2 separate regions of the Homo sapiens genome follow, and region 2 is linked to region 1. Evidence: fine-mapped expression QTL. A gene starts in region 1. The other region holds a variant in brackets. All regions are shown on one strand. Distances are between the middles of the regions. Region 1 holds the start of CLIP3 (CAP-Gly domain containing linker protein 3). Region 2 overlaps WDR62 (WD repeat domain 62).

What was found.
Region 2: its variant is fine-mapped to the expression of CLIP3 in whole blood (INTERVAL, PIP above 0.99).

What each region holds. Positions count from the first base shown.
Region 1 is chr19:36,025,155-36,040,498 of GRCh38, reverse strand. CLIP3 (CAP-Gly domain containing linker protein 3) reads left to right here and starts at 7,626. Exons shown (of 14, transcript NM_015526.3): 1 at 7,626-7,775; 2 at 8,084-8,307; 3 at 13,228-13,367; 4 at 13,454-13,547; 5 at 13,752-13,913; 6 at 14,234-14,352. The coding sequence starts at 8,142. THAP8 (THAP domain containing 8) reads left to right here. Exons shown (of 4, transcript NM_152658.3): 2 at 363-555; 3 at 781-1,176; 4 at 4,907-5,515. The coding sequence ends at 5,059. All of the region lies in intron 3 of LOC101927572 (a long non-coding RNA gene), which reads right to left. RefSeq lists a silencer at 4,727-4,900.
Region 2 is chr19:36,093,756-36,104,547 of GRCh38, reverse strand. It overlaps WDR62 (WD repeat domain 62), which reads right to left. Exons shown (of 32, transcript NM_001083961.2): 20 at 10,384-10,517; 21 at 7,469-7,521; 22 at 4,931-5,149; 23 at 3,673-3,800; 24 at 3,231-3,334; 25 at 2,774-2,884; 26 at 2,397-2,534; 27 at 1,697-1,811; 28 at 1,474-1,600; 29 at 1,341-1,392; 30 at 567-1,205; 31 at 1-30. Among named protein-coding and RNA genes, the nearest start is that of OVOL3, 12 kb to the left of the region's middle. RefSeq lists an enhancer at 3,440-3,941. The variant T/C (reference allele first, on the strand shown) is at 4,034.

The DNA.
Region 1 (15,344 bases):
AAAAATTAGCCGGGCGTGGTGGCGTGCGCCTGTAGTCCCAGCTACTCAGGAGGCTGAAGCAGAAGAATCGTTTGAACCCAGGAGGCGGAGGTTGTAGTGAGCCAAGATCGCGCCATTGCACTCCAGCCTGGGTGACAAGTGCGAAACCCCGTCTCACAAAATACTACTACTAAAAGATGAAGCTGAAAAAAGGGTTGTGGTTGTGTGTATGAGATAGAGAAAGCCTGGGCACAAGACAGGTCTACTTCCTAGCCCTAGGGAGGCACAGGCTTGGAGCCCAGAGACCTCCAGGGTGGGTATCCTCTGGGAGGGATAAGTCTGAACCTCGTAGCACTGACCCAGCCCCCCAACCACCCATGCAGGTTCCCACTGAAGGATGGTCCCCGGCTGCAGGCCTGGCTGCAGCACATGGGCTGTGAGCACTGGGTGCCCAGCTGCCACCAGCACTTGTGCAGCGAGCACTTCACACCCTCCTGCTTCCAGTGGCGCTGGGGTGTGCGCTACCTGCGGCCTGATGCAGTGCCCTCCATCTTCTCCCGGGGACCACCTGCCAAGGTGAGCGCTGGGAGGTCCTGCTGCTGGAATCCAACCCCCAGACCTCCCTGCCTAAGGGAAGTCCCTCCTTGAGTCTGAACTTTGGCCCTCCCCTCCTGACGACACTTCCTCCCTGAGGTCTGGCCTTACCTAGGCAAGTCCCCCTTGGAAACAGACCCTCCATCCCTTTCCTCCTGAGTCGAAGTCTGACCACGGCACCCCTGCACCCCATGCCTTGTCTTCCAGAGTCAGCGGAGGACCCGAAGCACCCAGAAGCCAGTCTCGCCGCCGCCTCCCCTACAGAAGAATACACCCCTGCCCCAGAGCCCTGCCATCCCAGTCTCTGGCCCAGTGCGCCTAGTGGTGCTGGGCCCCACATCGGGGAGCCCCAAGACTGTGGCCACCATGCTCCTGACCCCCCTGGCCCCTGCGCCAACTCCTGAGCGGTCACAACCTGAAGTCCCTGCCCAACAGGCCCAGACCGGGCTGGGCCCAGTGCTGGGAGCACTGCAACGCCGGGTGCGGAGGCTGCAACGGTGCCAGGAGCGGCACCAGGCGCAGCTGCAGGCCCTGGAACGGCTGGCACAGCAGCTACACGGGGAGAGCCTGCTGGCACGGGCACGCCGGGGTCTGCAGCGCCTGGTGAGTGGCACCCCAGCCTGGCAGCCCCATCCATGGGTGGTGGCCTGGCCTGCAGTGTGTTTTCATTTTGTCTAGGATCCCCTATTCAAAAATCAGAACATTCAGCCGTGTTTCCAAATTTCTGGCTTTCCCGGGCTCAGTGGCTCACGCCTGTAATCCCAACACTTTGGGAGGCCAAGGCAGGAGGATTGCTGGAGGCCAGGAGTTCGAGACCAGCCTGGGCAACATAGCAAGCACTGTCTCTACAGAAAATTAAAACAAATTTCTAGGTTTTCCTGAAAAACAAAATCTGGCAATGCCAAGCAACTATTGGTTGGAGCTGAGTAATGATTGCTCCATTTACTAATACTAAATACTTAATATTTGAGAAGCTCTTATTGTCTGCCAGACACAGAGTTATAACATAGTGAGCTGAAAACTCACTATGACCCTTTGAGCTGGAGCTACAGGGTTAATTTTTTTTTTTTTTTTTGAGACGGAGTCTCGCTCTGTTGCCCAGGCTGGAGTGCAGTAGTGCAATCTCGGCTCACTGCAGCCTCTGCCTCCCAGGTTCAAGCGATTGTCCTGCCTCAGCCTCCCAAGTAGCTGGGACTACAGGTGCCCGCCACCACGCTCAGCTAATTTTTTGTATTTTTAGTACAGACAGGGTTTCACCGTGTTAGCCAGGATGGTCTCGATCTCCTCACCTCGTGATCCACCTGCCTTGGCGTCCCAAAATGCTGGTATTACAGGAGTGAGCCACCATGCCTGACTGCTACAAGGTTAATTTTTAAAAAATGCAGTGGCTCACATCTGTAATCCTAGCACTTTGGGAGGCCAAGGTGGGCAGATCGCTTGAACCTAGGAGTTCAAGACCAGCCTGGACAACATGGTAAGACTGTCTCACTAAAACACAAAAATTAGCATTGTGGTGGGCACATGTGGTCCCAGCTACTTGGGAGCCTGAGGCAGGAAGATCCCTTGAGCCCAGGAAGCAGAGACTGCAGTGAGCCAAGATCGCACCACTGCACTCTAGCCCGGGTGACCAAGCAAGGTCTCAAAAAAAACCAAAAACCACAACCAAACAAAAAACTCACTATGGTCTGTGTGCGGTGGCTCATGCCCGTAATCCCAGCACTTTGGGAGACCAAGGCAGGCAGATTGCTTGAGTTCGGGAGTTTGAAACCAGCCTGGGTAACATAGAGAAACCCTGTCTCTACTAAAAATACAAAAATTAGTTGGGCATGGTGGCGCACCTGTAATCCCAGCTACTTGGGAGGCTAAGGTGTGAGAATTGCTTGAACCCTGGAGGTGGAGGTTGCAGTAAGCCGAGATGGCACCACTGCACTCAAGCCTGGGCAACAGAGCGAGACGCCATCTCAAAAACAAAAACAAAAACAAAAAAAGGCCGGGTGTGGTGGCTCATGCCTATAACCTCAGCACTTTGGGAGGCTGAGGTGGGCAGATCACGAGGTCAGGAGTTCGAGACCAGCCTGGCCAACATGGTGAAACTCCATCTCTACTAAACATACAAAAAGTAGCCGGACGTGGTGGCACACGTCTGTAATCCCAGCTACTCGGGAGGCTGAGGGAGGAAAATTGCTTGAACCTGGGAAGCAGAGGTTGCAGTGAGCCGAGATTGTGCCATTGCACTCCAGCGTAGGCGACAAGAGCAACACTCCATCTCAAAAAACAAACAAAAAAAACCTCATTATAATCTTAATACTGCTGTTGTCTCTATCTTCCAGATGAAAAAATGGAGGCACAGAGCAGTCCAGTAGTGTGCCCACAGTCAGGCAGCCAACATGTTTCAGGGCCAGGATTCAAACCCAGGTGTCTGGCTGCAGAAGAGGCCTGTGAGAGCTTCCTGCCTGGCCCCTATAGAGCTGGAGTTTGCAATCTCTGTAATAGTGTCCCCCAGGCCCTATCTGAATCCCTTTTGCCTCTATATTTTACTGCTGGGTGTGTGTGTGTGTGTGTGTGTGTGTGTGTGTGTGTGTAGGGGAGGAATTTGAGGAAGGTGTTTGTGTGTGTGTGTGTGTGTAGGGGAGGAAGCTGAGGAAGGTGTGTGTGTGTGTGTGTGTGTGTGTGTGTGTGTGTAGGGGAGGAAGTTGAGGAAGGGTGTTATGTCTCTGTGTGTGGGGTGGCGGGGGAGGAAGATGAGGAATGGTGTTATGTCTCTGAAAATCACAGTTTGACCAAGGCGAAATTTCTCCTGTCTTAAAACCCTAGGGCCAAGCTTGAGGTGCCCAGCTTAGCCCCCATGGCTTTCAGAGCCCTGCTTGTATGAGAGAGATGCCCACACAGAGCTCTGAATGCTAGACTCACTGAAGGGGCTCAGGAAGGAGCCCCCACAGTACCTCTGGAGTTAAGGAGTATCCGATTTTTTTTTTTTTTTTTTTTGAGAAGGAGTCTTGCTCTGTTGCCCAGGCTGGAGTGGAGTGGTGCGATCTCAGCTCACTGCAACCTCTGCCTCTCTGGTTCAAGCGATTCTCCTGTCTCAGCCTCCCAAGTAGCTGGGATTACAGGCACGTGCCACCATGCCCAGCTAAGTTTTGTGTTTGTAGTAGAGACGGGGTTTTGCCATGTTGGCCAGGCTGGTCTTGAGCTCCTGACCTCAGGTAATCAGCCCACCTCGGCCTCCTATAGTGCTGGGATTACAGGTATGAGCCACCATGCCCAGCCAGGAGTCTCAGATTGATAGTCAGTGGTTTGGACATGACCCACAGATACAATTTGTTTGGCCTCCGCAGTGCTTTAAAATAATTTATAATGGCCGAGTGCAGTGGCTCACACCTGTAATCCCAGCACTTTGGGAGGCTGAAGCAGGTAGATGACTTGAGCCCAGGAGTTTGAGACCAGACTGGGCAACATGGTGAAACCCTGTCTCTACAAGAAACACAAAAAATTAGCCAAGTGTTGCACCTATAGTTCTAGCTATTTGAGAGGCTGAAGTGGGAGTATTGCTTGAGTCCAGAAGGTCAAGGCTTTAATGAACTGTGATTGTGCTACTGCACTCCAGCCTGGGTGACACTGTGAGACTCTGTCTCAAAAAAAAAAAAAAAAAAAAAGTCTGGTCTTTCCTGAAGGCTCTGCATATCTAGCAGCACTGGGCTTGGATTCTCAGGTGATAGCAGTTGGCTGGAGCTACAGTGTGGCTGCCTCTGGGGCCTTGAAGTTTGAGACTGTGGCCTGGGGCACAGAGGGACAGTGGGGCAGGGACAGAGCTCAGACTCGGGCCTGGGGCTCTTTGTGGAGCCTGCCAGATCCCCTGAGCTGACTGCCTCTCTCTGCCTCCCCTCCTGTCATTCAATCTCTGTCTCCTACTCATCTATCCCTACCTCCCAATCTCCTCCCTCCCCAACATTCATTGTCTTTCTGCCCATCATCTCTGTCCGCCACCTGTTTCCCCACCTCCCTGTGTCTCTCTTTATCTGCATATTTTCTGTCTCCCCCATATCTCTGACCCTGTCTGTACGTCTGTCTGCCTGCACATCTCTTTCCCCCACGTGTCTGCGTCTGTGCCCCCGCACTTCTCTTCCCATTTCCCCACCCTTCTTTCCTTTCCCATGAATGTCTCTCTGGCCCTCACATCTGCTTTCCTGTCTCCTCATATCTCTCCCCACATCTCTCTCTGTTTCCTGACACGCCCTCCTGCCACCTTTGCCTCCCTGTTCCTCACCGTTATCTGTCTGTCTCTCCCGCAACTTGCTTCGTAATGTTCCCCATCTCTACCACTTCTTTGCCTTAGACAACAGCCCAGACCCTTGGACCTGAGGAATCCCAAACCTTCACCATCATCTGTGGAGGGCCTGACATAGCCATGGTCCTTGCCCAGGACCCTGCACCTGCCACAGTGGATGCCAAGCCGGAGCTCCTGGACACTCGGATCCCCAGTGCATAAGGATCAAGACAGACAATGTCGAGGGACAAAAGATAGAAGATGGAGGAGGAAAGACATTATACGTGGGCTTGGCCCAGCCCCACCGCCCACGCCTGGGTAGTAGCAGTGCCTCCCTCAAGGGCCTGGGTTCTACCACCCCACTCCTAGGGATCTCTTGAACCTTAGGGGTGACCTGGGCCCAAGTCTCTCATCAGCCCCCAATCCCCTGGGTACCAGGCTTCTGCCACCCCCGGCTCAGATCTTTGCAAATCAGTACGACAGCCTCAGAGCAGAGCAAGGGTTGTTTGGGAGAATCATACCTGGTTCTAAGGAGTCCCACGCTTTTTGCCAAGCCTGGTACTGAGTTCATGATACCATGGTGGACACAGCTGAGAAAATCCCTGCCCTCATGGTGCTCATTCTACTTGAGTAGACGATGAACTAGTAAACAAATAAACAAGAACACTGCAGACATGAGCGATGAGTGCTATAAAGACAACAAAAATTTGGTTTGGGCCTGGGGGAGGGCCCTCCAAGGCCATGTTTTAGCAGAAACCTGGGTGATCAGAAGGGGCTGGCCTGGAGCGCTACAGGCTCAGGTTCCAGAGGACGAACAACCCCTGCAGTGAGGGCCTGCTGTCTGGGATGTGTCAGGTCTGGGAGGCGGTGTTGCTATGGAGAAAACCATAGTAGGGAAGGGAGGAAGGGGTGCAGTTTTAGAGCAGAGAAGGTGAAAAGACACCAACAAGTAAGATCCTAAAACAGGGCAGAGAGGGAGCCACGTAGGGATTTGGAGGAAGAGCATTCCGGGCATCACAAAGAGCCGTTGCAGGCCAGGCACGGTGGCTCACGCCTGTCGTCCCAGCACTTTGGGAAGCTGAGGCAGGCAGATAACCTAAGGTCAGGAGTTTGAGACCAGCCTGGCCAACATGGCGAAACCCCGTCCCTACTAAAAATACAAAAATTAGCTGGGTGTGGTGGCACAGGCCTGTAATCCCAGCTACTCGGGAGGCTGAGGCAGGAGAATCACTTGAACCTGGAAGACAGAGGTTGCAGTGAGCAGAGATCATGCCACTCCACTCCAGCCTGGGGAACAGTGAGACTGCCATCTCAAAAAAAAAAAAAAAAAAGAGCCAGTGCAAAGGTCCTGGGGTAGGGAGAAGCAAGGAGGCCAGTGTGGCTGGGGTGGAGTGAACAAAAGAGGGTGAGAGGAGGTGAGTGCAGAGATGATGGGGCAGGTTCACATAGGCCCTTGTGGGCCATGGCTGAGAGCCTTGGCTTCTACCTGGAGTGAGGTGCAGCAGGCAGACCCCTCTGAGGGAAAGAGGGCTCCAAAGTGACAGGTGTTCATGGGTCCCTGTGGCTGCATGTTGGAGGAGGACGGGGACAGCAGGTAAGAGGCTGCTGCCGTAGTGCTGGTGGCAGAAGAAGAAGGATGGACCAAGATGAGGGCCCAGGGTAGCGGTGGGGAGAGTGAGATCCTGGAAATCTTTTGGAGATGGAGCTACTGGACCTGTGCATTAGAAGGATGAGGTGTTCAAGGCTGTCACCCAGCCCCATCCAGGCTGGGATGATTTGAGGCAGAGCAGGCTACAGCTCCAGGTGGGAAGCCAAGCCATGACAATGGAGCCAGGACCCTGGGCTGGCTTCAGGAGGCCTCCGTGGGGAAGATACAGGTTCTGAGAGAGTTGGAGGGGTCAATCGGCAGATCTGTTTCCCAGACACTGCTACAGGCATGTAGCATGGTGATTAAGAATCAAAGCTGGGCATGGTGACTCGTGCCTGTAATCTCAGCGCTTTGGGTGGCAGGGGCAGGAGGATCCCTTGAGGTCAGGAGTTCAAGACCAGCCTGGGCAACATGGCAAAACCCTGTCTCAAAAAAAATTCTCCAGACATGGTGGCATGCACGTGTGGTCTCGGCTACTCGGGAGGTTGAGGTGGGAGGATGGCTTGAGCCCAGAAGTTTGACGCTGCAGTGAGCCAAGATCACAACACTGCACAGTAGCCTGGGTGACAGAGTGAGACCCTGTCTAGGAAATAATAAAAATAAAAATCAGACTTTACAGACTGTCTGGTTTCAAATGTTCGCTCCATCACCTACTCATGTACTTTTGGGCAAGCTGCTTAACCTCTGGGCCCCAGTGTGTGAGCCTCGCATTATGATGGTAAGGATGAGATGATCATGATAGGAGTCTCTAGGAAATCACCCCTCTGAGGCACCCATTATGAATGGTGAGCTTGGAGAAGGGGTCCGGTCTAGGGTCCTAGAGAGAGGGTCCCCTAGAGGGTCCCCATCGTCACCACGCCCCAAGACCACTGCCCTCACCGGCCTGGTTTGCAGGCGTGGGGGAAGGGGATGGAGAAGATCTGTGTCCGCTCTCTCAGCCCTCTCTTTTGCCGTTGTATCTGCTCATCTCGCTCCTTTCCGTAGCCATCTCTTCCTCTCCCAGTGCCCGGAGGCTCTCCCCTTTCAGTCGCCGCCTCTGGCCCCTCCATCAATGCGAGCGCCTCCCGGTCCCTCCTCCTGGTCCCTCCTCCCCCGCCGCCGGTAGGGGGGCAGCAGGCGCATGCGCAGTCGCGCCCCTCCCTCTCCGCCCCCACCCCCTGTCGGCGTCTGGGCCTCGTCCCCTTCTCTCTGTCTCCCTTGCCTCCCCCATCACGTCCCCTGACACCGACACCCCATTGCTCCCACAGTCTCCCCAGTCTCCACTTTGGTCCCCAGCGCTGTCTGCCCGAGGTAAGATGGGGAGGGGGCGGCCCGCGGAGAAGGGGAGGGGCGAAGCATCCTGAATCCCGAGATAAACAAACCCGGGGAGGGGGCAGCCGCGACTGAGGGGCCTGACGCGGGAGGAGAAGAATGGGGGGCTGGGCCTGGGGGAGGTGGCAGGCGCTGGGCGCACACACCGGGGCCCTCTATGGGTAACGGGGGTCCCTATGGTTGCCCAAGATCCAGTTGCGCGGAGGCCACCCGGGGCCCTGGAAGCTCCTAGGGGCTTGGACCCTGGAGCCTGCCGGGCACCCTCTCCAGCTGACCTCTGCCTCCAGGATTTGCCTGAAGGCTGCCCCCAACTCTGCACCCGCCCCCCGAGGGCCACCGAGGACCATGACTAAGACAGATCCTGCCCCGATGGCCCCGCCACCCCGAGGAGAGGAGGAAGAAGAGGAGGAGGAGGATGAACCCGTCCCCGAGGCCCCCAGCCCCACCCAGGAGCGCCGGCAGAAGCCTGTTGTGCACCCCTCGGCACCTGCCCCCCTCCCTAAGGACTACGGTAACCACTGTCCCCACCCTGGAATCTGGCCTGGAGCGTTGGGTGGCCGGGGAGGGTGGGCTGTGCTCTGCTGGTGGTGATGGTGGGAGAATTCTGGGGAATTTGAAGGTGGTCCAGAGGAATCTTGGCTGCAGAGCACCCCTCGTTAATTCATTCATTCACCCATTGGAGAATGGAATTGTAATACTCCTAGTCTTTGACTCATGACACATCATTCCATCATTTAGTCATTCAACAATCATTTTTTGAAAGCGGCTGTGGACCTGGCTTTATGCTAGGGGCTGGGGCCACAGCAGGGGGCAAGAGAGACCCAGTCTTTGCCCTGAGACAACTCACAGGCCTCAGTAACAGCCACACAAATAGGTATTAAACCATAATGTAATTTTTCACATTTAGGTTTATATGCAAGAAAGAAAAATATAATGTAATATAAATATGTAATTACAAGACATTATGAAAATTGTATTTACCATAAACAAGCTGCTGCAAGAGTTTTTTAAGACATTGTTTCCCTGAGGAGGTTACAGTTGAGAAGACTGGAGGGTGAGTTGGGGTTAACTAAGAGAAGGGTCAGGGGAAAGGGCTCCCAGGAGAGGTAACCGCTGGGTAAAGGATCTGAGGTAGGAGGGTATGGAGCTGAGAGGGCGGCCTCTTGGAGAAACTGAAAGTGTCTAATCATTGACCGAGCGATATTTATCGAGTGCTGCTACTCTGTGACAAGCCTTATGCTGGGTGCCGGAGATTTAATCCTAAGTGATCCAGGCATGATCCTCCCTTGCAGGAGAGAAGGAGAGACTAAACAAGTGAACAGATAAATAAATCAGAAATCAGATAAATTCAGATTGGAGCAAGTGCTATGAAAGAAAGAAAAGGTGGGCTGGGCATGGTGTCTCACGCCTGTAATCCCAGCACTTTGGGAGGCTGAGGCCAGCGGATCACCTGAGGTCAGGAGTTTGAGACCAGCCATGGCCAACATGGTGAAACCCCATCTCTACTAAAAATACAAAAATTGGCTGGGTATAGTGGCATATGTCTGTAATCCCAGCCACTCGGGAGGCTGAGGCAGTAGAATCGCTTGAACCTGGGAGGCAGAGGTTGCCCAAGATCGAGCCACTACACTCCAGCCTGAGTGACAGAGTAAGACTGTCTCAAAAAAAAAAAAAAAAAAGAAAAAAAAAAAAAAGAAAAGAAAAAAAGAAAAAAGAAAAAGAAATTAAAGGTGGAGATACGATAATGACTAGGGGGCAGCTACCTGCAGGGGTAGTCAGGGCTGCTCTTTCTGAGTAGGTAACATTTAGTTTGGGACCCAGAGCATGGGGAGGAATCAGCCATAAGAGAGCTGGAAAAAGAGTGTTCCAGGCAGACAGCAGCAAGTGCAAAGGCCCTGAGGCAGAATTGAACTTGGAACAGAAAGATCCTGGAGCTGCATTCAGGGAATGATCGAGGTTGAGGTGAGAGGTTGGCATAGGCCAGATCTGGAAGGGCCTTCAAGGCTACAGTGAGGACTTTGGTTATATTCTAAGTGGGACAGGGGAGAAGAGTGGCAAGGGGAGGGTGTTTAAGAGCAGAGGAGTGGCAGGTCTGATTTGTAGTTTGAAAGCTCCCTCTGGGTACTGGGTAGAAGGGGATGGAGTGCAGCCAGAGTTGGATGTAGGAGGGGAATTTGGAAGATATGCAGGCTGGGAATCCCCGGCAGCTGTGAGGTTCAGAAACCAGGTTCAGAGAGTCAGCGTTGCCAGGATAGAGCAAGACAGATGGCATCCATGGACATGTCACCCACTAGAGGTAGATCAGGGAGACTACAAGTTGACTTCAGTCTAATAGAAAAATAAGAAAGTTGGCTAGGCACAGTGGTTCTGGCTTATAATCCTAGCACTCTAGGAGGCCAAGGTGGGAGGATTGCTTGAGGCCAGGAGTTCGAGATCAGCCTGGGCAATGGAGCAAGACCCCATCTGTACAGAAAATTTAGAAATTAGCCAGGCATGGTGGGTACCTGTAGTCCCAGCTACTCCAGAGGCTGAGGTGGGAGGATCACTTGAGCCTGAGAATTCGATGCTGCAGTAAGCTAGGATTGCACCACTGCACTCCAGCTTGGGTGACACAGTGAGACCCTGTCTCAAAAAAAGAAAAAAGTAAAAGGAAGTTATCTGGGGCCTGAGGTCGGGGGGGTGCTGTACCTCAGAAAACTGGAAAATCTCCTTTGGAAATGCAGCTGGAGGTGGCTGGGGCCTCTGACTCAGTGGGAGGTCGGAGGGTATAGGCTGAGCCCTCCAAGCAGTCTTGCTTGTAGAGCGGGAGAGGTTTTGTCCCAGAATGTGAAGAAATCTGGAAATGTGGTCGAGGACAGGGAGAAGGCTAAGGTGGACTCCAAGAGGAAATCATGTATCTGTTAAATTTGTACATTAATTCAACAGAGATTGACTGAGCACCTACTGTGTGCCATGTGCTGTGCCTGGCCTTGGGGATAAAGGAGTGAATGAGGCAGAATAGAATCATAGCATTTAGATCCTAGTGAGGGAAGAAGAGAGGAAATGAAGGAGGGAGAAAGAGGAGTAAACATGTCAAGTAGTGATATGAGCTATGATAAAAATAAATAAATAAATAAAGGGCTGGGCATGGTGGCTCACACCTGTAATTTCAGTGCTTTGGGAAGCCAAAGTGGGAGGATCACTTGAGCCCAGGAGTTCGAGACCAGCCTGGGCAACATAGCAAAACGTTGTCACTACAAAAAAAAAAAAAATTGCTGGGCATGGTGATGTATACTGTAGTCCTAGCTACCAGGGAGGCTGAAGCAGGAGGATCACTTGAACCCAGGAGTTCAAGGCTGTAGTGAGCTATGATCATACTATTGCATTCCAACAGACCCTATTTTTTTTTTTTTTTTTGAGACGGACTCCAGGCTGGAGTGCAATGGTGCAATCTTGGCCCACTGCAACCTCTGCCTTCCGAGTTCAAGCGATTCTCCTGCCTCAGCCTCCTGAGTAGCTGGGATTACAGGCACTCACCACCACGCCCAGTTAATTTTTGTATTTTTAGTAGAGATGGAGTTTCACCATGTTGGTCAGGCTGGTCTCGAACTGCTGACCTCATGATCTGCCAGCCTTGGCCTCCCAAAGTGCTGGGATTCCAGGCGTGAGCCACCATGCCCAGCCAAGACCCTATCTCTAAAAAAAAAAAAAAAAAAAAAAAAAAAAAGAGTAGGAGATGGAGAAGGGCGGGTGCCGATTTAGACAGTGTGGTTTGGGAAGGCCTCTCTGAGGAGATGACATTTGAGCAAAGATTTATAAAGCTTTGTGAAGATGTGTGGGAAGTCTATCCTGAGTGAGAAGAACAGCAAGTGCCAAGACCCTGAGACAAGAATTTGCTTGGCACGTGGGAGGGACAGAGGGAGCCCAGTGTGGGAAATGAGGGAAGGGGAATAAGTGAGGGGAGAGGGCTGAGAACTGAGGGGCTGGATGTGCAGAGCCCTGAGGGCCGTGGGGAAGACTTTGGTCTGTACTCTGGATGGGTTGGGAGCTGGAGGAGGGTTCTAAGCCAAGAAGGGCTATGATGTGACTGCAGTTCTAAAAGGAGCATGCCGGCTGATTCCTGGAGACACCTTCTATGTGGCACTTCCCTGGGCTGTGTATAATCTGATCATTCATGTAGTCGTTCATTCACCACGCACTGAGTTCCTGCCACGTGCCAGGGCCCTGTGCTGGGTGCTGACGTCACAGAGAGCAGTACTCCTTAGAGTCGAGTGGGAAGAGACAGAAGTGCCTCTAGGCACCACCCTGGCTGGGCACAGGTTGATTCCTGCTCATGGATACATTTTATTTTATTTTCATTTTTATTTATTTATTTACTTTTTTTGAGATGGAGTCTCACTCTCTGTCACCCAGGCTGGAGTGCAGCGGCGCCATCTCAGCTCACTGCAGCCTTTGCCTCCTGAGTTCAAGTGATTCTCCTGCCTCAGCCTCCCGAGCAGCTGGGATTACCGGCGCCCACCACCACGCCTGGCTAATTTTTGTATTTTTGGTAGAGTCAGGGTTTCACCACGTTGGACCAGGCTGGTCTCGAACTCCTGACCTGAGGTGATCCGCCCGCCCCGGCCTCCAAAAGTGCTGGGATTACAGGCGTGAGCCACCGCGCACAGCCTCTATTTTTATTTTTTATATTTCCAGAGTCAGGGTCTTGCTCTGTTGCCCAGGCTGGCGTGTAGTGGCACAATCATGGCTCACTGCAGCCTTGAACTCCTGGGCTCAAGCAATCCTCCTGTCTCAATCTCCTTGAGTAGCACCAATGCGCACCACCACACCTGGCTAATTTTAAAACTTTTTGTAAAGACAGGGGTCTTGCTATGTTGCCCAGGCTGGTCTTGAACTTATGGGCTCAAGCAATCCTCCTGCCTCAGCCTCCCAACGCATTGGGATTACAGATGTGAACCACTGTGCCCAGTCATGGATACATTTGATGTGGACTGCATGGTATTTGAAACAATTGAGAGAGTTTTATTAAAAACCAGGACTTCTGGCTTTATTTATTTTTGCTCTGGAGATTCAGCCAAACTTCACTCATACTCTCACAGGGCAACAGTGGGTGAGGTCAGTAGCAGTCCCCCTGGACATGCAGACTCCAAGGTACTGCACTCTCTGTCAGGCTTTTGTTTCAGGGGGTGGAGTTTGCTGCTATATGGGAATTGCCTGATCTTCCAACTTTTCAAGACACACTGGGCATCGAGATTTTTATGTGAACCCACCTGAGTTTGAAACCTCATGCTGGCCACACAGAAAATGCCTGTGGGTTGACTGTGGCCCATGTGCCACCAGCTTGAGACCCTGCATTAGAGGCTCTAAAAGGCAAAGACCTACAGCTCCCCTACTGAGGCTGGAAGGAGGGGGTCAGTTGCGTGGGGTGACCTTGGACCTCTTGCCACCCCAGCTTTCACCTTCTTCGATCCCAATGACCCGGCGTGCCAGGAGATCCTGTTTGACCCTCAGACCACCATCCCCGAGCTGTTTGCCATTGTGCGCCAGTGGGTGCCCCAAGTCCAGCACAAGATAGACGTCATCGGCAATGAGGTGAGAACACTGGGGAAACCAGGGGGAGAGGGGATGCGGTTCCCCACATGTGTGGGTGACCCTCCCTGCTCCCCTGGTACTCACAGATTCTGCGCCGAGGCTGCCATGTGAACGATCGTGACGGGCTGACCGACATGACACTGCTCCACTATGCGTGCAAAGCTGGGGCCCACGGAGTCGGTGAGGGCCCCCTACCCCCAAGTCATAAGCCCCAAAGCCTAGGCCCCCAGACCCAACACGCTGAAAACCACCCAGAACTCAGGCCCCATCTGGAACCCGAAGCTTCGGATCCCAAAGTATAGTCCCTGAAGCCCAGGGTCCTCCCCGTGCACTGGGCCCATGCTCTGGAATGGGGGTTCCAAGCTGACCCGGCCTATCGCGCAGGGGACCCCGCGGCAGCCGTGCGCCTCTCGCAGCAGCTGCTGGCGCTGGGCGCAGATGTGACGCTGCGCAGCCGCTGGACCAACATGAACGCGCTTCACTACGCGGCCTATTTTGATGTGCCCGACCTCGTGCGTGTGCTGCTGAAGGGTGCGAGGCCGCGAGGTGAGGAGGAGAGCCCTGGCTGGGAGGGGGCAAGGACCTGGGTGAGGGACGCGGAGACCCAGGTGAGGCCAGGCTGCGAGGGGAAGGAGGACGGTGATCTGAGGAGATAGCGGGAGGTTGGAGGCGTGGGAGAGGGGGCTCAGGGACTACCACTCTAGGGAGGGTCGGGGCTGCCAAGGGAGAGGGGGGCTCCGAGGTGGGGGCGGGGCTCTGCGTCGGAGGCTCTGGGACCTGCAAGTTAAGAGATGAGCCCCGAGGTGGGAGGAGGGCTGGGGTCCCACAGGCGCTCACCCGGAACCCCTCCTCTTGCCCACTTCCAGTGGTGAACTCCACGTGCAGTGACTTCAACCACGGCTCAGCCCTGCACATCGCTGCTTCCAGCCTGTGCCTGGGCGCCGCCAAATGTTTGCTGGAGCACGGCGCCAACCCTGCGCTGAGGGTACTGCCACCCTTGCCCAGAACCCGTTACCCTCCTGCTCCCTTCCTCCCCCACTTCCCTCCAGCAGGTCTCTGCGTTTCCCGTGACTCCCCAAATACTACAAATGCCGTCTGTACATTCAGCAAATGCAATAACAGCTGAAATATGCCTAGTGTTCATTACATGTCAGGTGAAGTCTATTATAAGCCTTGTTTTACAATGGGGAAACTGAGGCAGAGATTAAGGGATCTGCCCAGGGTCATCCAGCCTATCCCATGGCAGTGCATAACAGCATTTCAAGGTCATGAGGAAAGTTGGGCTAGGCCTTCTGTGAATGAGAGGGTTGGTCCTCTCCTAAGCCCTCAATATGATCTTTGACCTCTGACCTATGCATTACCAGGCTCCATCCACAATGCTAATTACCCTGCAGCCGTCCAGGCACATGTATGTTGGGGTAACATGGCCTGTGCCCCTGAGACCCTGCCTCTCCCCATTTTCCACTGGCCCAGAGTTTGACTCCTGACTCTATACCACAGGAGCCCACTCTCACTCTCTCTAATTTTTTTTTTTTTTTTTTGAGACAGAGACTGGCTCTGTCATCCAGGCTGGAGTGCAGTGGTGCAATCTCGGCTCACTGCAACCTCTGCCTACCAGGTTCAAACGATTCTCCTGCCTCAGCCTCCCGAGTAGGTAGAATTATAGGCATGCGCCACCACACCCGGCTAATTTTTGTATTTTTAGTAGAGATGGAGTTTCACCATGTTGGCCAGGCTGGTCTCGAGCTCCTGACCTCAGGTGATCTGCCCACCTCGGCCTCACAAATTGCTAGGATTATAAGCATAAGCCACTGCACCCAGCCCACAGGAGCCCATTCTCAATGTTCATCTCCCACATGTCCTCATTACAGGCTTGGGGTCTCCAGAGATTGCCTCCCTGAGGGCGTGACCTACAGCACTGAAGTGTGGCCCTCATCCCTACTGCCTACACCCCCAGGCCCACCCTCAATTACTTGA
Region 2 (10,792 bases), 66 kb before region 1:
CAGGGCTGCCCTGTAACAGACCAAGTGCACCTGGGGTAGAGAGAAGGGAATGAGCAAGATGAGCTGCATTCCATTGGTGTGAGCGGCCAGAGCGACTGGGTGGACTCCATGCTGTACTTCTGTCTGGAACACTTCTCTGGGTCCCCAAGGCTCCCTCCCCTTCACTCCTACAGGTCTCTGCTCCAATGCAGCCTCCTCCCTGAAGCCTCTTCTTATCTTCTGGTTTGTAATCCCAACCCCTGTCCCCACCCTGCACTCCCTCGCCCTCCTCTGTCCCTCCTAAGCATGTGTCACTTCGTGATACATATGACGGGTTCCTTAAAGGTTTAGTCTGGGCATTGTCCCCATTGAAGCTGTCAGTTCTCTGTGTTGTTTACCACCATGTCCCATGTCCCAGGGTTTAGCACAAAGCCCAACATGTAATGCTCATTAAATATTTAAGTTAATGCACGAATGAATGAATGGCACAGTCCCTGTGGCCAGGTCAAGTATCCATCTTTGGAGCTGAGCCAACTAGCACACAGGATGAGCTTAGGGGACAGTCCTTGCTCCAGGGCTGTACTCACCGGAGGTGGGCTCCAGGAGGGAGGCAGTGCCGCCAGGGATGCCAGGCCGGGCCTCTGGAAGCTGGGGGTTACTGGGGTGGGCAGGAAGGCCAGGGGACTCAGGAGCTGGGAGACTTGGGCGAAAGGCAGAGCCGTGGAGCCTCAGGGCGCTCTCTTCCACAGGGCTAGGGGCTGGGAAGCTCACTGCAGGGACGGTGACGCCAGGCTGGGTATCCACGGGGGGCTGCAGGAGCCCATCACAGGCACTTGACAGGGTCAGTCTCAGGTTGGCCCGGGCCTCGTGGTTGCCCCAGGAACGCAGGGCAGGCTCTTGGCCCTCACTGTCCAAACTGGGTGTTGTCGCGGTGGTGATGGCCTGAAGCTCCTGGCCCAAGGAGGCCAGCTCCCCAACGGACGATGGCCTACGGAGGGGCTGGGCCAGTGTGGCCACGATAGGGCCCTCACTGTCACCGAGGGAGATGCTGCGTGATATCCTGGCACGGGAGCTGGCAGTGGCCTCCATGTAGGAACAGGTGGAGGGGGCATGGACACCCTGAGCCAGGCCTGGGGTGGGTGCAGATGTGGGCGTTGGGAGATTCCTGTCTGTGGGCAGCACGGAGGAAGCAGGGACACAGGACGCCAGGCTCGTAAGGCAGGGAGCTGTAACGGAAGCAGATGGCACTGACTCCACCACACAGAACTGATGGCTAGGGCCCCCACGCCCCACAGCTAGGCTGGACATCCGGCCACTCGCCGAGAAACCCAGGACTGTCCGTCTGGGACTGGGGCACTCACGTGGTGGGCGCCAGGCCTCCAGGGTCTCTTCAGCCTTCCCTGCAGCGAGGACCTGCAGGCACAGCTCTGAGGTGAGGACAAGGCCTCAGGGTTCCCAGCCCCGTGCCCTGACGGAGGTGGGCCCAATACTCACGTGGGTCCTGTCTGGGGAGGCGTAGCCAGTACCTGCTCTGGGCTGGCTTCCGCCTCGGTCCATGAGCTTGACCTCTGGAGACTTCACAAGGCACTGGGTTGCCCGGGGAGGGAAGGTATGGGTGAACCTGTGGGGAGGAGAGCAGGGGGGATGATTCTCATTCAGCCTGCCCTGGGGCACTGTTGAGGAGCCAGAGGGTGGGCAGTGCTTGGCCAGCTTCTACCTGGATGCCTTCTGGAGGCTTGAGAGGAACTGCGTGGAGATACTCAGGCGTGGGTTGAAGAAGTGGTCTTCAGCTTCAGAGGCCTCCACGTCTCCCAGAGCTGCGGGGAAGAGCTCTAGGGGAAGATCCCGAGGGGACCCTCATAACCCTTCCCGCCGAGCAGCCCTGGCCCTAGGCCAGCCCACAGCCCAGCGGGGCACTCCCCAGAAACCCTTATGTACAGACACAGGGTACGAGCAGGGGCAGTGGGTGAGGAGGCATCGTGAGGCTCAGGTCAAGAGTGAAGCAGTGGGCCGGGCACGGTGGCTCACGCCTGTAATCCCAGCACTTTGGGAGGCCAAGGCGGGCAGATCATCTGAGGCAGGAGTTTGAGACCAGTCTGGCCAACATGGTGAAACCTCATCTCTACTAAAAATACAAAAAATTAGCAGGGCGTGGTTGTGGATGCCTATAATCCCAGCTACTCAGGAGGCTGAGGCAGGAGAATTGCTTGAACCAGGGAGTCGGAGGTTGCAGTGAGCCAAGATTGGGCCACCGCACTCCAGCCTGGCAACAGAGCGAGACTCCGTCTCAAAAAAAACGAAGCAGTTGCTCTCCACTCACCCTCCTGGCCCTGCTGGGGAGCCAACTCCAGGGACGCCAATGCTGTGCCCAGGCTGCACAGACGGCCTCGGCAGGTGTGGGTGAGGCAGGGCCCTACCTCTGCAGGGGGACTCAGTCAGTGTCTCAAAGTGGTGGCGGAGGAACTTCTCCTGCTCCGGAGTCTGGGGTAGGGAGCTGCTGGGGACGCTGGGTCCCTCGGGCAGGGACAGCTCATCTTCTGTGGGACCTGCGCATCCTGACAGGGAAGGAGGGGAGGGACAAGAGGAGCCAACACCATGAGTCACAGCAGACGCCACCTGAAATGGAGAAAGCGGGCCCCACCCATCCCTGCCCTGTTGCCCGCAGGCTGAGAAGCAGGGATCCCCGTCTTCCAGGCTCAGTGGGCTCCAAGTGCAGGGCCTGTGCTTAGACATTGTGACTGGCCCTAAGCCAGGCCCGAGCAGCGAGTCCCCTGCGTGTCTGGCCCCTGCTTACCTGGGAAATGGGGCAGCGACGTGGCAAACCGAGGGGCAGGGTCAGGAGGCGGAGCTGGGGAGTGGATGGCTGCGAAGCTGCACTCCAGGTCGGCCTCTGACTCCCCCGAGTCTGAAGGACAGAGTCGGGGTCAGGAGCCCACAGCCTGACCATTCTGGTGAGCCAGGGCCAGGGCTACCCTTCCCTGGGCTCAGTTTCCCCATCTGGAGGAGGGATGGTAAGAGCAGCTGCCCCCCATTTTATGAATAAGGGAAGTTCCACATCAAGGAGGTGGCAGAGCTGGGCTCTCAGCTGTAGGCAGCTGGGCCCAGAATCCTCAGGCAGCAGCAGGGACCACATGTGTCTTCCTCGACAGACTCTGAGCTTCAGTACTGGGTCAAAGTCACCATCGGTGCCCAGAAAGGGGCTTGGCTGAACGCACAGACTGTCACAGGGTCCCTGCCTGCCCTGCACTCACCCTCAGGCGGGCTCTGGTCCTTTGGGCTGTCGGAGGACACCCTGAGGTAGGAGTCGCCCTGCTGGTCTCCAGGCCCGGCCTCCACCTCCTTCCTGCAATACTGGCTGCAGTGCCAGTGGGGGCAGAGAGGGAACAAGGACTTCAGCTGGAGACTCAACAGCTAGCCCCACCCGGAGCCCCTAGGCACCTGTACCCGCTGCTCCTGCAGGAGCACTGCGACAGCCTCCCCGCCTCCTCCAAATGCCCCCTCCTTCCCCCAGGTCAGGCCCTCCTGTACCCCACCTGGAACCAGGGAACTAAGGCTGGGCTCCTGCCCCATCCAGGCCTCAACTGTCCCCACTCCCACAAGCCCACTGGGAAGGCAGAGAGCACTTCTTCCAGGATGCAGCTATCAGCTGGGGGTTCCTCCAACTAAGGCTCCCTTGGTGGAAAGGACACCCACCTGTCTGTCCCTGTGACTGTCACTTCTGCCTCCAGAGAGTAGAGGATGAGCTCACTGGCCTCAGATGATTCCTTCTGCTGGGGCAGGAAGGAGGGGTGCCCGCGGCCAGCTTCCTGGGGACTCTCTGACTATGGGGAAGACAGCACAGCCATTCTGAGGCAGGCATGGCTGGGGCCACCAACAGTGCGCCAGGAACCATGCCAGCAGCCCCACTGCTGGAGGCTGTGAACCAGGGCCTGTGCCATGCCCTCCACTCGCAACCAGCTTGTCCTGGTCTGCCCCTGCATTATCAGTCCCTTTACAGATGAGGAAGAGGTGTGGCACCAAAAATAGGAGGCCCAACCCTCTACGTGTCTATTTA[T/C]ATCAAGTTCAAGAATAGGAAACCCAGTCCTTGGTGAGAGGTCAGAACACTGGTTATCCTGGTGCGGGGACCTGACTGGGAAGGGCAGAAGGGGGTTTCTATGAGGTAGAAAACACTCCAGATTTTGCCCAGGGTAGTGGACACACGTGAATTACACAGATAGTTCATCAAGCTGTATACCTAAAATCTGTGCATGTTACTGGATGTATATTATACCACAATGAAGATGACAAATTATAGGATAGGATAAAAATGAATTTTGTTTGGAAAATAGTAGAGAAAGAGCTAAAGTTGCACGGGCACCTCTAAGAGCCCAGGCCCTATACTTAAGCATGGATTCCTGTAAAAGCCCTCTGGGGCAGAAGAGATTGTTATTACCATTTAAAAACAAAACAAACAAAAAAATTTAAAAAATATTTTTGTAGAGGTGGGATCTTGCTACGTTGCCTAGGCTGGCCTTGAACTCCTCAAGTGATCGTTAAGTAATCCTCCTGCCTTGGCCTCCCCAAATGCTGGGATTACAGGTGTTAGCCACTGCCCCTGACCCCATTATGACTACTTTTTAGAAGACTGAAGCCCAAAGAGGTAAGCCTCTTACTCCAGGTCACACAACAGGAATGGGTAGGGTCAGGGCTCGATCTACCCAAATGTCCCCCACTTGGGTACAAGCCTGCTCTAGCATCCAAGCTCTTAACCCCCAAGTGACCCACTTTCCAAAGACTCCCTGTCTGCCTTGGGAAGTCTTGCTGTGCAACAGACCTGGGGCTCACCCTCCTGCCCTTCACCATCTCATGTAATCCTCCCTGCCCCCATGGAGTGGGAGTCAGCCTAAGGCGCCAGGCCCTGGGGCCGTCACGGTGCCGGGGCTATGGGCCAGGCTGCGGTGGAAGTGTGTACCTCACTCAGCAGGCTGGCCAGGCTCTGTGGCTCCAGTGAATCCAGAATGGAGTTCTCCAGACTCTCGGGCTTCATGGGGGTAAAGTAGCAATCCAGGTCCTGGGCATCCAGGATGGTCTTGAGGGGCTCTTGGCCGGCCCGCTCTGCCCAGCGGCCGTGGGGCTGGTAGCTGCGCTTGGCGTGGAAGGCCAAGCCATCTGCCACATCATCGTCCCCTAGCTTGAAGGATATCGGACAGTCAGGCAACTGGCTGAGTGCTCACTCACTGCAGGGAGCGACACGGACATTTCACACAGCCCATCTGGACTCTTGGCTTTCAATACCATTCAGAAACAACTTCCAGGTACATATCTCCAGCGTGAACCTTTCTCTGTTTTTTTTTTTTTTTTTTTTTTTGAGACGAAGTCTTGCTCTGTCTCCCAGGCTGGAGTGCAGTGGCGTGACCTTGGCTCACTGCAACCTCCACCTCTCAGTTTCAAGCAATTCTCCTGTCTCAGCCTCCAGAGTAGCTGGGATTACAGGTGCCCACCACCACACCTGGCTAATTTTTGTATTTTTAGTAGAGATGGGGTTTTGCCATGTTGGCCAGGCTGGTCTCAAACTGCTGACCTCAAGTGATCCGCCCGCCTCGGCTTCCCAAAGTACTGGGATTACAGGCATGAGCCACTGCGCCCAGCCCATTTTGTTGGTTTTTGGTAGAGGTGGACTCTCACTATGTTGCTCAGGCTGGTCTCAAACCCTTGGGCTCAAGGAATCCTGTTTCGGCCTCCCAAAGTGCTGGGAATGCCCAGCTGGGATTCATGAACTTTTCTCTGAAACTTCAGAATTGCACATGTGACTGCTCTACATTTCTGTATGGATGTCTGGTAGGTATTTCAAAGTTAACATGCTGACAACTCAACTCATTTCCTCTGCACAAACCTGCTCCTCCTAAAGATTCCCTGTTTCAGTTGTTTTTTCCAGTTACTCATGCCCCAACCTTGGGATCATCCTTCATTCACCTCTCTTATTCTGTCTCTTATAATCCACATTGTCTTTCTTTTTTTTTTTTTTTGAGAGGGAGTCTCACTCTGTCGCCAGGCTGGAGTGCAGTGGCATGATTTCGGTTCACTGTAACCTCTGCCTCCTGGGTTCAAGTGATTCTCCTGCCTCAGCCTTACCAGTAGTTGGGACTATAGGCATGCACCACCATGCCCAGCTAATTTTTGTATTTTTAGTAGAGACGGGGTTTTACCATGTTGACCGGGATGATCTTGATCTCTTGACCTTGGATTACACCCGCCTTGGCCTCCCAAAGTGCTGGGATTACAGGCGTGAGCCACCGCACCCGGTCTCTTTTTCTTTTTTTTTTTTTAAGAGACAAGGTCTCGTTCTGCCATCCAAGCTGGAGTGCAGTAGCACGATCACTGCAGCCTCCAACTCCTGGGCTGAAGTGATCCTCCTGCCTCAGGCTCCTGAGTAGCTGGGACTATGGGTGTGCACCACCATGCCTGGCTATTTTTAATCTTTTGTAGAGATGGGAGTCTCATTATGTTGCCTAAGCTGGTCTCGAGCTCCTGGCCTCGTGGCTTTTACACGTATAGGCTGTTATGACTAGAACATTCGTCCCAGTATCTGCCTGTCTCACTTGCTTCAACTCTGCTCAAACATCATTTTCCCAATGAGGCCTTTCCTGTTTACTTAAAACTGACACCCCCCAACACTCCTTATTTTCTTTTTTATTTTTATTTTTTTTATGAGACAAAGTGTTGGCTCTGTTGCTCATGCTGGAGTGCTGTGGAGTGCAGCTCCCTGCATCCTCGACCTCCCTGGCCCAAACAATCCTCCCACTTCAGCCTCCTGAGTACCTGGGACTACAGGTATGCACCACCATGCCTGGCTAATTTTTTTATTTTTTGTAGAGATGGGGTCTCACTATATTGCTCAGGCTGGTCTTGAACTCCTGGGCTCAAGTGATCAACCTGCCTTGGCCTCCCAAAGTGCTGGGATCACAGGCATGAACCACCGTGCTGGGCCCCTGTTCTTTTTCTCTTTTTTGAGACAGGATCTCACTCTGTTGCCCACGCTGGAGTGTAGTAGTGGTGCCTTCTCAGTTCCCTACAGCCTCAACCTCCTGGGCTCAAGTGATCCTCCCACTTCAGCCTCCTGAGTAGCTGGGACCACAGACACGTATCACTGCACCTGGCTGACGTATTTTCCTTCTTGATTCTTTTCCCTCCACAGCACTTATCAGCACCCAACCTACTACGTCATTTACTTATTTAATGGGGATATTGTTCCTCGCCCACACAGGCAAGTGAGCCTGTGAAGGGAGAGACTTTTGTTTCCCTTGCTCACTGTTGTGTCCCTGACATCCAGAACAATGCCTGGCAGAGAGCACTGATCATGAACAAAGGGCTGTCTCACTGAGCCTGGAAGGATGACAGGGCTTCTCCAGGGAAAAGAGGGACATGGAAAGGAAAAAGGGCTTCCAGAAGGCAGAGCTGGGGAGGCGTTTCCTCTGCCAGCCCCTGAGCAACCCTCTCCCTGAAGACTTACCAGCCGCTTTGCCCACAGTGGCAGCTTGCCGTTGGTTAGCAGGCAACGAGGATCTGGAAAGACACAGAATCCATGAAAAGAGGACAAACAACCCAACAAACAGGCCACATACATAACCGGGCAGTCCCCAAAGAGGCAACACCACAACCCAGAAGTCAGAAGGCTCAACAGCACCGGGGGTTAGGGAAATGCAAACTTAAACCGTGGGATGCGATATTTGACTCACGAGACTGACCGAGGTGAAAAAGCTTAATACTACCAAAGGATGGCAGGAAAAGTGTGGGGACAATGGAGAGCCTAATGCAATGCAGGGTGGGGCAGTAACTGGGTTTGGAGAACTCTTGGGGTTCTCTTTTTTTTTCTTTTTTTGAGACGGAGTCTCGCTCTGTTGCCCAGGCTGGAGTGCAGTGGCGCGATCTCGGCTCACTGCAACCTCCACCTCCCGGGTTCATGCCATTCTCCTGCCTCAGCCTCCCAAGTAGCTGGGACTACAGGTGCCCGCCACCATGCCCGGCTAATTTTTTTTTTTTGTATTTTTAGTAGAGACGGGGTTTCACCATGTTAGCCAGGATGGTCTCGATCTCCTGAACTCGTGATCCGCTCGCCTCGGCCTCCCAAAGTGCTGGGATTACAGGTGTGAGCCACTGCGCCCAGCCGGGGTTCTCTTTTAAAATAAAGGCCAGGCATACTGGCTCAAGCCTGTAATCCCACCACTTTGAGAGGTCGAGGTGGGAGGATACTTCAGGCCAGGGGTTTGAGACCAGCCTGGGCAACACAGTGAGACCTTGTCTCTACACACACCATCCCCTGATACACACATATTTAGCTGGGTGTGGGAGCTTGAGCCTGTGGTCCCAGCTACTCCACAGGCTAAGGAGGGAAAATTGCTTGAGCCCAGGAGGTCAAGGCTACAGTGAGCTATGATTGTGCTATTGAACTCCAGCCTGGGCAACAAAAATAGTGAAATAAAATAATAAAACAACTTTTTTAAAGTAAAATAAAATAACTCCAGGATCCAGTGGTGCTACTCCTCAGACTCTCTCCTGGAGAAGTCCTCACATTTCGAGGAGGCTTAGGAGTGGTCTCCACTCCATAGCCTCATTAACAGTGATGTGCAATCAGGAAAAACCTAAATGGCCACCTGGAGGGGAATAACTTAAAATTTCGCAGGCGTCTGCTTTGTATTCACCAACATACAGGTAGATGAGAGACTTTGCAGAGGAAAAAGATTCCGGACAATATCCGCAACATAATTCAATTTATTTTTACTTGTTCATTTATTTTTTGAGACGGAGTCTTGCTTTGTCACCCAGGCTGGAGTGCAGTGGCGCAGTCTCAGCTCACTGCAACCTCCGTCTCCCAGGTTCAAGCAATTCTCCTGTCTCAGCTTCCCAAGTAGCTGCTATTACAGGCGCACGCCATCACGCCCAGCTAATTTTTGTATTTTTAGCAGACATGGGGTTTCACCATGTTGGCCAGGCTGGTCTCGAACTCCTGACCTCAGGTGATCCACCCGCCTCGGCCTCCCTGAGTGCTGGGATTACAGGCGTGAGCTACCACACCCGGCCTCAAACACATCTTTGATGCCTGGTCAGGTGGTGTGAGTGGATGGAGCTGACTACAGTCTCTGCCCTCAGAAGTGATCACATGCTGAGATGTGGACAGCTACAACAACTGGCTCAGAAGTGGGTACAGCAGATACCAGAAACATGAGCCACACAACCCTAAGACTCTGCTTGAGCTACTATAGGAAAGAGGTGTTCTATTCTCTATGGAGTTTTATAAGCCTGTAGTTGCTGGGGGTATCTTTTCCCCTAGTAAAGGGACAGTCTGTCCATCAGCAAAGCCAACATGAAGAAAAGCAGAGCCAAAAGATACAAAAAAAAATCTTCCTTTTAACATCATCTGTCTATCTGGATCTAGCCATGCTGAAAGCTAATCCTCTCCAATTTTCAGGCACCAAAAAATCCTCTTCCTGACTTAAGCCTGGTTGCTTTTATACTGAAAGAGTCTTGACTGATATGATTATTGAGTTTCTTTCTTTTTCTACAGACAGGATCTCACTCTATTATTCAGGCTGGAGTGCAGTGGTGCAATCATAGCTCATTATAACATGGAATTCCTGGGCTCAAGCGATCTTCCTGCCTCAGCCTTTCAGGTAGCTGGGACTATAGGTGTGCACCACCAGGCCTGGCTAATTTTTTTCTTTTTGTAGGAACGGGGTCTTGGTACGTGCCAGGCTGGTCTCAAACTCCTGGCCTCAAGTGATCCTCCTGCCTCAGCCTCCCATGTAGTTGGGACTACAGATGTGTGCCACTATGCCTGGCTAATTTCTTTAAAAAATTTTTTTTTTGCATAGATGGGCTCTCGCTATGTTGCCCAGGCTGGTCTCGACCTCCTGGCCTCAAGTGACCCTCCCATTTCAGCCTCCCAAAGTGCTAAAATTCCAGGTGTGAGCCACCACGCTAAGCCTGATTACTGAATTTTATTTATTTTATTTATATTATTATTATTATTATTATTTTTGAGACGGAGTCTTGCTCTGTTGCCCAGGCTGGAGTGCAGTGGCGCGATCTCAGCTCACTGCAACCTCTGCCTCCCAGGTTCAAGCAATTTTCCTGTCTCAGCCTCCCTAGTAGCTAGGACTATAGTTGCACGCCACCACGCCCGGCTAATTTTTGTATTTTTAGTTGAGACGGGGTTTCACCATATTGGTCAGGCTGGTCTCCAACTCCTGACCTCAGGTGATCCACCCACCTCGGCCTCCCAAAGTGCTGGGATTACAGGTATCAGCCACCGCACCCTGTCGACTCCTGAGTTTTAATATGTGCCAGGCCCTGTAAACAAGGTCATGGGCAAAACCCAGCAATGATTCCCTACACTGACATAGTTCAAAATAGGGCCCCTTTTCCAACCTGGATCCAAGCTATCTTTGGATGGTGTCTTCAGCATCTCTTCTGGCTCACACTCTTCCTCCAGATCATCCTCTGTTTGCTCTCCAGGGCTCAGGGAGTGAATCTCACTAGGTGTGGACACATACGTATCCTGCCTAAAGCCAGGAATGAGGATGGTAAGGAGAGAATACAGGCAAATGGGCTGGTGGTGGGGACTTGCCTAGGGCTGGGCCCTGTGCTAAGCTCCATGTGAACATATTCTTGGCTGCTGGTCAAGATGGTGCTGGCAAGTCTCTCACTTGATGCCGTCTCCCCACTAGAAACACATCACCACAATAGATGAGATTAACAAAGGCCAGGCTACAAACGAATGCAAACTCTCAGGGCCACAGCAATGGGACAGAAAGCCAAGCAGACAGCGGGGCTGCAG